Linked DNA regions of Homo sapiens: region 1 is linked to region 2. The links come from fine-mapping of genetic effects on gene expression. A gene starts in region 2. The other region holds a variant in brackets. All regions are shown on one strand. Distances are between the middles of the regions. Region 1 has its middle 38 kb from the start of OR2B6. Region 2 holds the start of ZSCAN31 (zinc finger and SCAN domain containing 31).

Region 1 (5,535 bases), 340 kb before region 2:
TTTTTAATAACTTTTTTTCTAAAGAAGTTTGCAGTTCACAGCAAAATTGGGTGAAAGTTACAGAGCTCCTAAATACCCCCACCCCATACATGCATAGCTTCCTCCATTATCAACATACTCCACCAGAGTAGTCAATTTTTATAATCAATAAACTTATATTGATATATCATGATCACCCAAAGTCCGTAGTCTACATTAGGGTTCACTCTTGGTGTTGTGCATTCTATGGGTTTTGAGAAATGTATAATGGCATTTATACCCTCTTACAGTATTGTACACAATAGTTTCACTACTGTAAAAATTCTCTGTGCTCTATCTAATCATCCTTCCCTCCCACCAATCCCTGGAAACCACTGATCTTTCCACTATCTTCACCATTTTGACTCTTTCAAAATGTCAGAGAGTTAGAATCATGAAGTATGCAGCCCTTTTCAGATTGACTTCTTTCACTTAATAATATGCATTGCATTCAAGTTTCCTCCCTATTTTTAATGGCTTGATAGCTAGCTTTTTTAGCAAGAAATATTCCATTGTCTGGATATCCTACAATTTATCTGTCAAGTCATCTACTAAAAAAATTTTTGATTGTTTCCAGATTTTAGCAATTAGGAATAAATCTTCTATAAATCTGTGTGCAGATTTGTATGTAGACATGTTCTTAACTCATTTGGGTAAATACCAATGAGTGTGACTGCTGGATCACATGGTAAGCATATGTTTAGTTTTAGAAAAAACTGTCAAACAGTCTTCCAAAGTGGATGTACCATTTTGCATTTCCATCAGCACTAAATGAGAGTTACTGTTGCTCCGCATCATTGGCTTCGTTTGTGCTGTCAGTGTTTTGGATTTTAACCATTCTAATAGGTGTGTAGTTGTATCTCATTGTTTTAATTTGCAATTTTCTAATCATATATGATGTTGAGCATCTTATCACATGCTCGTTTGCCATGTATATATCTTGTATGGTGAGGTATCCATTCAGATATTTTTTTTTCTTTGAGATGAAGTCTCGCTCTGGTCCCCAGAGCACAACGGTGCGATCTTAGCTCAGTGCAACCTCCACCTCCCAGGTTCAAGCAATTCTCCTGCCTCAGCCTCCCAAATAGCTGGGATTACAGATGCGTACCACCATGCCCGGCTAATTTTTGTACTTTAAGTAGACACGGGGTTTCACCATGTTGGCCAAGCTGGTCTCAAACTCCTGACCTCAGGTGATCCACCTGCCTCGGCCTCCCAAAGTGCTGGGATTACAGGCATGAGCCACCGTGCCCAGACTGTTCAGATCATTTTTAATTGGGCTGTTCATTTTTTTATTGTTGAATTTTAAGAGTTGTGTACTTTGAATTTCCTCAAGTCCTTAATTCTTACTCAGATAATTAATCTCTGATATAATCATCCATATGTCTAAACTTTTGTGGATACTAACAATGTTATAATAAATACTCTTAATTGCTTCTTCTTATCAATATGTCTTCTGGGAATTTGGGTCTGTTTTTCATAGATATCTGCTTTATTGAAAAAAATTATATATTACGTGCAGCTTAAACTGACTAAGAAAATCACTGCTCTGCCCCAATAGGTAAAGTGAGGGGCAAAAAGAAAAAGAAATGGTAGATAAGATGACACGGAAATTCTTCCTGATCTATGTTCGTAAGTGAAAATTATCAAATTAAAGTGTACCTAATGATAATATATAAAGTAAAATGATAGCTCTTCTACAATTCCATTCTCATAGTCACCTGATTGTCTAAATCAGGGGTCCCCAACCCCTGGGCCATGGACCAGTACCAGTCCGTGGCCTGTTAGGAACTGGGCTGCACAGCAGGAGGTGAGTGGCAGGAGCTAGCATTATGGCCTGAGCTCTGCCTCCTGTCAGATCAGTGGCAGCATTAGATTCTCTTAGGAGCATGAACCCTATTATGAACTGCACATGCGAGAAATCTAGGTTGCATCCTCCTTGTGAGAATCTAACGCCTGATTATCTGAAGTGGAACAGTTTCATCCTGAAACCCCCACCAATTCGTGGAAAAAATGTCTCCACAAAACCAGTCCCTGGTGCCAAAAAGGTTTGGGATCACTGGTCTAAATGGCTTCCCTATCTGTTCAAATAGACAATTTGAGCTTAGGAAATAGCTGCATTTGGGTAACATAAGTGAGTACTTTATTTAAAAGACCATACACACATTACCCCAAACATAAAACACATGAGAGAAGGAGGCTCTGCTTTCTAATTTTTACTTTTTCTTGTTCTATAAAACTTTCTGGGAAATGTGAAGGATATCAAAATCGTACTGCATGCAGTTTCAATTGAAGCATTTGTTTACAAAAAGAATCCAGTTGTTCTAATGAAAAACATATGCTAAGTTGGATGGTGCTCTAGTAAAATAAATTAAGGAGGAATTCAATATGACCCCAAAGAAATTTGAGGAAAGTTATAAAAACATGGGAACATCTTTTGAAATGTCTTTTTAAATCA[C/T]GTTGCTTTAAAATTTTTTATATTGTATAAGCTTATTTTCCCTTGTCCATGTTAGAAAAATGTTCTACTTCTCATGCCATAGGCACTTATATGGTTTCTTCTCATGTTTGAGATGTACATGCACCCACACAAATCCAAGACATCTAGAACACTCAGGCATTTGCACCCTTGTGGAAAGAGAAGCTTACTCAGCTGCAACTGAGAGTTCTATTTTCTTATAGAGGAACACATTGTTAAATTTCAAGTAAATTCTAACCCATTAGTCCTAGGAACGTATTATGACTTCAAAGAAATTAGAGGTAAGTCATAAAAACATGGGAACATCTTTTTAAATGTGGCTTTTTAAAGCAAGTTGCTTTCTTTTTTACTGGAAAGTAAAAAAGAGAAACAGGGATTCCTTGAGCAAACCTGTATGTCACCTGTCATATCTGGAGAAGGCTCTCTAGAGCTCAAGCTGCCTAGATACGTTGTTGTGAAAAAGAAAAGAATGCCTTCCCTCAATTATAGACTTCTTACTTACAAATAAAATGGATATCTTTGAAATACTTTGTCTGAAACAGTTAAAGGCAGTTTAGACCATGATAAGTCATCTTAGCCAGTTTGGGCTGATACAACAAAATACCACAGACTGGGTAGTACAAACAACAGAAATTAGTTCTCACAGTTCTGGAGTCTGGGAAGTCTGAGATGCAGGTGCCAGCACAGTTGGGTTGTGGTGAGGGCCCTCTTCTAGATTTACAGACAACTGTCTTCTTGTTGTATCCTCACATGGTGGAGAACAGAAAGGATGAGCAACATGTCATTTCTGTTCTTATAAAGGCACAAATCCCATTCATGACTGCTCCACAATCATGATATAATTACCTCGTAAAGTCCCCATCTCCTAATATCATCACATTGGGGGTAAGGATTTCAACTCGTAAATTTTGTCATTTATGCTTGACTAAATGACAAGCATTTAGTCCATAGCATAAGTTAAAGATGTATATATGTGGAAGTAAAATATAAAACAATAATTTTTACATTTCATCTAGCATAACAGGTAGATGAAATTGTATTGTTTTAAGTTAGACTGTGATAAGTTAAAGATGTATATTGTAAAATAAAAAGTGAAACAAAGAGGGTAGAGCTAATAAGACTAAAAGAAGATAAAATAGAATCATAAAATATTCATTAATACAAAAGGAGGCAGGAAAAGAGAACAAAAAATAGATGAAAAATAGGAAATAACAACTAAGATGATAGATTCAAATGCAAGCATATTGATAATTATATTAAATTTAAATGAAGAAATATCACAAAGCAACAACCTCAACTTCCACTTTAAGAAACTAGAAAAGGGCTGGGCATGGTGTCTCACACCTGAAATCCCAGCAGTTTGGGAGGCCGAGGTGGGTGGATCACTTGAGGTCAGGAGTTTGAGACCAACCTGGCCAACGTAGTGAAACCCTGTCTCTCCTAAAAATACAAAATTAAGCCAGGTGTGGTGGCTGGTGCCTGTAATCCCCGTTATTCAGGAGGCTGAGGCAGAAGAATTGCTTGAACCTGGGAGGCAGAGGTTGCCATGAGCCAAGATCACACCAGGGTACTCCAGCCTGGGTGACAGAGTGAGACTCCGTCTCAAAACAAGAAAGAAAATAAAAGAAAAACAAAACTAGAAAAGAAGAGCAAACAGAAACCTAAAATGAACACAGCAAAAGAAATAACAAAAAGTAATCAGTTAGAAAACAAACAAACATAAAACAAAAAAGAAAACCAATAAAACCAAAAGCAGTTTCTACCTAGAATAGTCAGGAAGAAAAGATACAAATTACCAATATCAGGAATGGAAGAAGTGATGTCACTACAGATGCCACAGATACTAAAAGGATAATAAAATAATCGTATTAAATAAAGTTATTACAAATTATGCCAATGAATTCAACAACCTATGGAATGGGAAAATTTCATGAAATGTACATAATACCAAAGGCTTATTCAAGAAGAAATTGAAAATCTGAATACCAGTTAAGGAACCTGAATTTGAAATTAAAAACTTTCCCACAAAGAAAACTCCAGGACCAGATAGTCTCACCGGTGAATTCTACTACATGTTTAAGTAAAGAGTAATATCAATTCTATATAAACTCTTCCAGGAAGTGAAGCAGATTAAATACTTCCAAATGCATCCTTTGAGGCCAACACTATTCTGATAGAACCAGACAAAGTCCCTGGAAGAAAATTAAACTACAGACTAATATAACTCATGAACATAGATACAAGAATTTTTAGCAAAATTTTAGCAAATTTAATCCCATAATAAAAAGAATAATACAATCTGACCAGGTAGCATTTATCATAGGAATGAAAGGTGGGTTTACATTTAAAAACCAACCAATCTAATTTACTAGATTAACAGATTAAAAAATTAACTATATGATCATCTCAATAGAAGCAAAAATGCATTTCACAAAATTCAACATCCATCTACGATCAAATTATGAATAAAAATGTACTTCCTCAACCTGGAAAAAAAATTTCTAAACAAAACCACAGCTATGCTTTTCTCCTGGAATCAGAAAAAAAGCAATTATGTTTACTCTTGCCACTATAATTCAACATTGTACTAGAAGTTCTAGCTAGTCTAGTAGGAAAGAAAATAAAATAAAAAGCATTCATATTAAAAAGAAAAACTCTTTTTATTCATTGACCACATTATCATTTACAGAAAATTTGATAGAATCTACAACAAAAGCTATTAGATTAAAAGATGACTTTAGAAAGGGTTGAAGGTTACACGATCATTATAAAAGTTATATTGCAGGTCGGGCATGGTGGCTCATGCTTGTAATACCAGCACTTTGGGAGGCCAAGGGGGGCAGATGACCCAAAGTCAGGAGTTAAAGACCAGCCTGGCCAACATAGTGAAACCCCATCTATACTAAAAATATAAAAATTAGCCTGGCATGATGATGGGCACCGGTAATCCCAGCTACTTGGGAGGCTGAGGCAGGAGAATCTCTTGAATACAGGAAACAGAGGCTGCCATGAGCCAAGATCACGCCACTGCACTCCAGCTT
Region 2 (5,000 bases):
GGGGAAGAGCACTCTGGACTATCCAAAGGCCCTGAGGAAGTGCATGCTGCCATCAAAGACAGGAAAGGAGGCTGGAGTGTCTACAGTCATGTGGGAGAAGAGTGGCAAAATATTAGGCTGGCAAGCCAAGCAGGAGTCAGATCATGTAGGGCATAGGAGTTAGGATTTTATAAATGCAATGAGAAACCACTGAAGGCTTTAAGAAAGGGAGTGACAAGGCTGAATTCTGTACCGAGAAGCTCTGCTACTGGATGGAGAATGAGCTGAGGGAATGAGGGTAGAGGCAAAAGTGGAAGCAGAAAGCAAGAGTAGAAGCAGAAGAGGCAAGAGTTAAAAAAAAGGGTAAAGTGGAGGGGGTGAAGACTATTGCACTGAATCTAGAAAGACTTCCACTTAGTTTAGATGTTACTGTACAAGTGAAAGGAGAAAGAGCTTAACCTTTGTAAAAGCAGTTCAGTCACTGGACAATCAATTTATGGAGCTGAGCTAAGAGCTTGGAATATAGAGGTGTTTATAGCTCATGAGGATATAGTTACAATACAATAAAATAAAAGCCATAATTTAAAAAATGTATACAAGGTATACCCCTGGAGGAAGTGGAAGAGCTCATCCTAAATACAAGATTAAGTTTTTATGCATTGCCTGTAATCCACAAAGGAATTCATTTCACATATATTTACTAAGTGTTTACGAGGTGTCAGACAGCAAAGAGTGAAACAATGCAGAATTTGATGTGTCCCCACTGTCCTTCACCGAAATAAAAACATGGCAGAAAGAGCATAAAAGAGAATGTTTTCATTCATGAGAATGTTTTCATTCACGTCAGCATAATTAACAACAGCAACAAAGAGATCATGTAAATCACAAATCATGTGTGTTGTAAAATAAATCCCAAAGGATACCAATTACGATGACAAGAAAACAGAAGAAGACCTTAAATACCATGAGGAAACAGTCAAATCCAGAAATGGGGATGCACTACAGGAAGACTGGAAGAGCCTCCTTTTAAACAAGGCAATGGGATGGGAGGAAGGGAGGCAAAGAGTAAAATTGCCCTAGGTTAAGACTCAACTACATGCAGTGAGTGGTCTATGATTGGATCCTAGTTGGTACAAACAGGTATAAAAGACATCTGTGGGACAACAGGGGGTGGAAGGATTTAAACATGAACTAGGTGTTAGGTGAAGCGCCTACACTTAGTTGGGTGTGCTAATAATCTTGTGGTTATGTAGGGAAATGTCCCCAATTTTTAGAGATGCATTAGAAACTAGAGGTGACAAGTTATGAGGTTGGTGGTTTTTACAATATTTAAAGAAAACATATGCGACAAACATTGCATAATGTTGACTTATTAAATAAAAATTACGTGTATATAGGAAATAAGGCTTTTGACAGGGAGAGACCCTTCTCTACCTCTGGACCTCGGTTTCGCCGCAAAGCTCCGACCTCTCTAGGGGTCTCTCCCACCACCCTGTGAAAGGGCTACCTAGCTTGCCTTAGGTGGATAGCAAGGGAAGGGTCCCTGGAGAGCCTGCCCCCGCCCATGATTTAGTGTCTTATCCCCACATAACATAAAACTAAGCCTGGGGAAAAAATCAGGTTGCAGGCACCGATAAGGGAACTAGCACAGGGTGTTGTGCCTAGAGATATGCCCACGGCTGCATAGATAGAAAAACCTCGGGCCCATTTGGATAAAAACTTGCACAGAACCTCCAGCTCACTCAGATAAGGGAACAAGGCCTGACACATAATGCCTTTGTCCTTTGTATAGTCAGCAGGTTCCCAGGAAAAGTTTCTTCTCCTTTTGTGGGTATGGACACGGTGGGTTCTGGTAGGTTCCGGCAGGCGCTCTACTTTCCTTTATTAGGACTATAAGCCCAGCTTCTGTGAATCATCACCTCAGCCCCTGATTGGTCCGGGGCCAAACTTTCACTTCGGCTTCTGATAGGTCCTGGGCCAAGCTAAGCAGCAGCTATGAATCATCATTTCAGCTCCTGATTGGTCCCGGACCAAGCTGAGTCAAGCGTTCGCCAGGACAGCCCGCAGACTAAGCGCATTCCCTCTCCTTTCCAGTCCATAAAAACCCCAGAACGGGCCCCATAATGGGTACTCCCGGTCGGGACCCCTTCTCTGCTGGCAGAGAGCTTTTTCCTTTCGCTTATTAAACTTTCGCTCTAACCTCACCTTTGTGTCTGCGCTCCTTTATCGTCTTGGAGGCAGGACAAAGAACTCCGGGCGTTATCTCAGACAAAGAAAGGCTGTTTAATCTTCAGGATAAGGGGCGGGACCTCCACCTACTCCACGGGGGCTTCAGGCCAGTGAATGTGTAGGGGCGGGGGTCACGCCTGCGCAGACGTTCCCTCCCCGCCTACTCCAAGGCACAGACCTGAAATCTTCTGGGAACCTGGCGGGTCGCGACAAGGGGCCAAGACTCACCTTCGGGGCACCGGCAAGCTACGGAACAGGTGGCGGGGCTGCAGCACCCCAATGACCGATCAACCGCAAAGGCCGGAAATGCGTCAGCCGTTCTGAGCCCACTGGCTGAAGCCAGGCAACTCTTTCCTTTCTAGGAATTCCAGAGGTGGCTGCTGCTTGGTGACTCCCTTATTGCAAACCCCGGGGCCAAAAATCCCAGTCCCACTGGGTGCGAGGCGGAGAAATCCGGCGAGGCATTTCTATGGGGAGCGGCCCCCAGCATTTAGGAGTTAGATGGTCATCGAGACCCAAAACATTAGAGCCGGAAGGTGTTAGGAAGATATAAACGTAGAGAGCGAGTAACAGGAGGCAATTCCACGGCCAAACAGGTTTATTTACAGGAAAAGCCTGCGAAGAGTTCCAGTTAGGAATCTGGCTGAGATCCTGATCGCTTACAAGCTGAGGCTTTTATAATAAAGTTTCTGTTGGGGAGGGGTTGGGGAAGTGCTGGCTAGTTGGAACTGTTTGGACACTTTCCAACTGGGGACAGATGTGGTTAGGGCCGTTAGGCTCTGTTGCGGTTAGAGCTGTTATGCTCTGTTGAAGCTATGGACGGGGTTGACATTTGCTTTGTTTCTTGAGAACACAGTCATCAAGGTTGTAAAATGGCATCACTATTGTTAGTCCTCACAGAAGGGACTTCATACTTTTTCTGTCTCTAATACTTACCTATTCTTCCCCGAGTCTGTCCACTTCCTCTGGTCTCTTTGACATCACAAAGGAGAGATGGTAATGGTGGGGACGAGAATACAGAGTTGTTTTTGTTGTGGTTTTGTTATTTTGTGTTTTACACTCAAACCTCTGTCTTCTGGAATCCCAAAGTCTAGAAGAAGAGCGTGTAAACAAGTAACTGCGTAAAACAGACGTGCATGTGAAATGAAGTAAAATAAAATAAGTGCTTGTAAATCGATGAGAATAGCCTCTGGAACATGCTAAGTACGTATGTAGGAAATAAATGTATGTATTAGTTTGAATTCGTGGCGTGGAAGAGAGAGGAAAACTAATGGGGCAAAACAAGACTCAGCAGGAATCTGCCAGTGTACACTGGAAAAGGAGCAAAGGAAATAAATTTCTGGGAGAGGGAATCAAATGTACAAAAGCAGAACTGGGGTGAAATCCTTTGGTACATCCAAAGAACTGGGCTGATCAGCATGACTGGAGAGTGGTATATGTGGCAGGGGCACCAGCTCTTACTTTTTTTGGATCCCTAACCAAGGAATTTGAGCAGTCTGATCAAATTTACATCTAGAAATGTTATCTTGGCAGCCATGTGGGGATGGACTGTAAGGAAATGAGACTACAGGCAGGGAGACCAGCTAGGAGACTACTACAAGAATCCAGGGTAGAGAGAGTGAGGGCCTGAATCAAGGCAGTAGCAATAGAAATAGAGAAGACAGATAATACATGTTAAGAGGTTGAATTGATTTTTTACAACTCATTCATTAATTATATAGATTCCCATTGAATGCGATCTTTGTGCCAAGGGCTTGCTGGATATAATAATAATGAAGGACACAAGGTCCTCATCCTCATGGGGTTTATAATGTAACAAGGAATACAGACAGAAAGAGACCCAGCTTATACAATTCAAGAGACCTTATTTGAGAAAAGGAATACAAAATTACAAGTACAAACATAGATATGAAAATGGAGACTTAAGTCAGGTGTAATAGCTCACGCCTGTAATCCCAACACTTTGAGAGGCCGAGATGGGAGGATCTCTTGAGTCCAGGAGTTCAAGACAAGCCTGGGCGACATAGTGAGACTCTGTCTCTGCAAAAAATAAAAAATATTATCCAGGCACAGTTACTCATGCTATTAGTCTCAGCTACTGGGGAGGCTGAGCAGGGATAATCACCAGCTGCAGTAGCCATGATCGTGCCACTGCACTCTAGCTTGAGTGACAGACTGAGACCCTGTCTCCAAAATTAAATAAATAAATAAATAAAGAAGGAAAAAGAAAAAAAACAAAAATGGAGATTTAGAATGGAAAATAGGCCAGGCGTGGTGGTTCACGCCTATAATCCTAGCACATTGGGAGGCTGAGGCAGGCAGATTGCATGAGCTCAGGAGTTCAAGACCAGCCTGGGCAACGTGGTGAAACCCCATCTCTACCCAAAATACAAAAATTAGCCAGGCATTGTGGCACATGCCTGTGGGTCTGAGGTGGGAGGATTGCTTGAGCCTGGAAGGTGGGGTTTTCAGTGAGCTGAGATTGTGCCACTGCACTCCAGCGTGGCTGACAGAGTGAGATCCCATCTCGAAAAATAAATAAATAAATATAGAATGGAAAATACATTCTTTACATCACATTACAATTTTTTTTGTAATTGTAATGATAATTACAATTACAAAACGAGACAGAACAGGGTCTCGTTCTGTCAACTAAGCTGGGGTGGAGTGGTGTGATCACTGCAACCTTAAACTCCTGTGCTCAAGCAATCCTCTTGCTTCTGCCTCCCAAAATGCTGGGATTAAAGGTGTGAGCTGCTGCCACCACATCCAGCTATACTACAAATTTTAAA

What was found. PIP is the estimated chance that this variant, and not a neighbour inherited with it, causes the effect.
Region 1: its variant is fine-mapped to the expression of ZSCAN31 in nucleus accumbens (GTEx, PIP above 0.99).

Annotation. Positions count from the first base shown.
Region 1 is chr6:27,992,472-27,998,006 of GRCh38, forward strand. No RefSeq gene overlaps it. Among named protein-coding and RNA genes, the nearest start is that of OR2B6, 38 kb to the left of the region's middle. The variant C/T (reference allele first, on the strand shown) is at 2,477.
Region 2 is chr6:28,333,646-28,338,645 of GRCh38, forward strand. ZSCAN31 (zinc finger and SCAN domain containing 31) reads right to left here and starts at 2,503. Exons shown (of 4, transcript NM_030899.5): 1 at 2,437-2,503. RefSeq lists an enhancer at 2,049-2,168.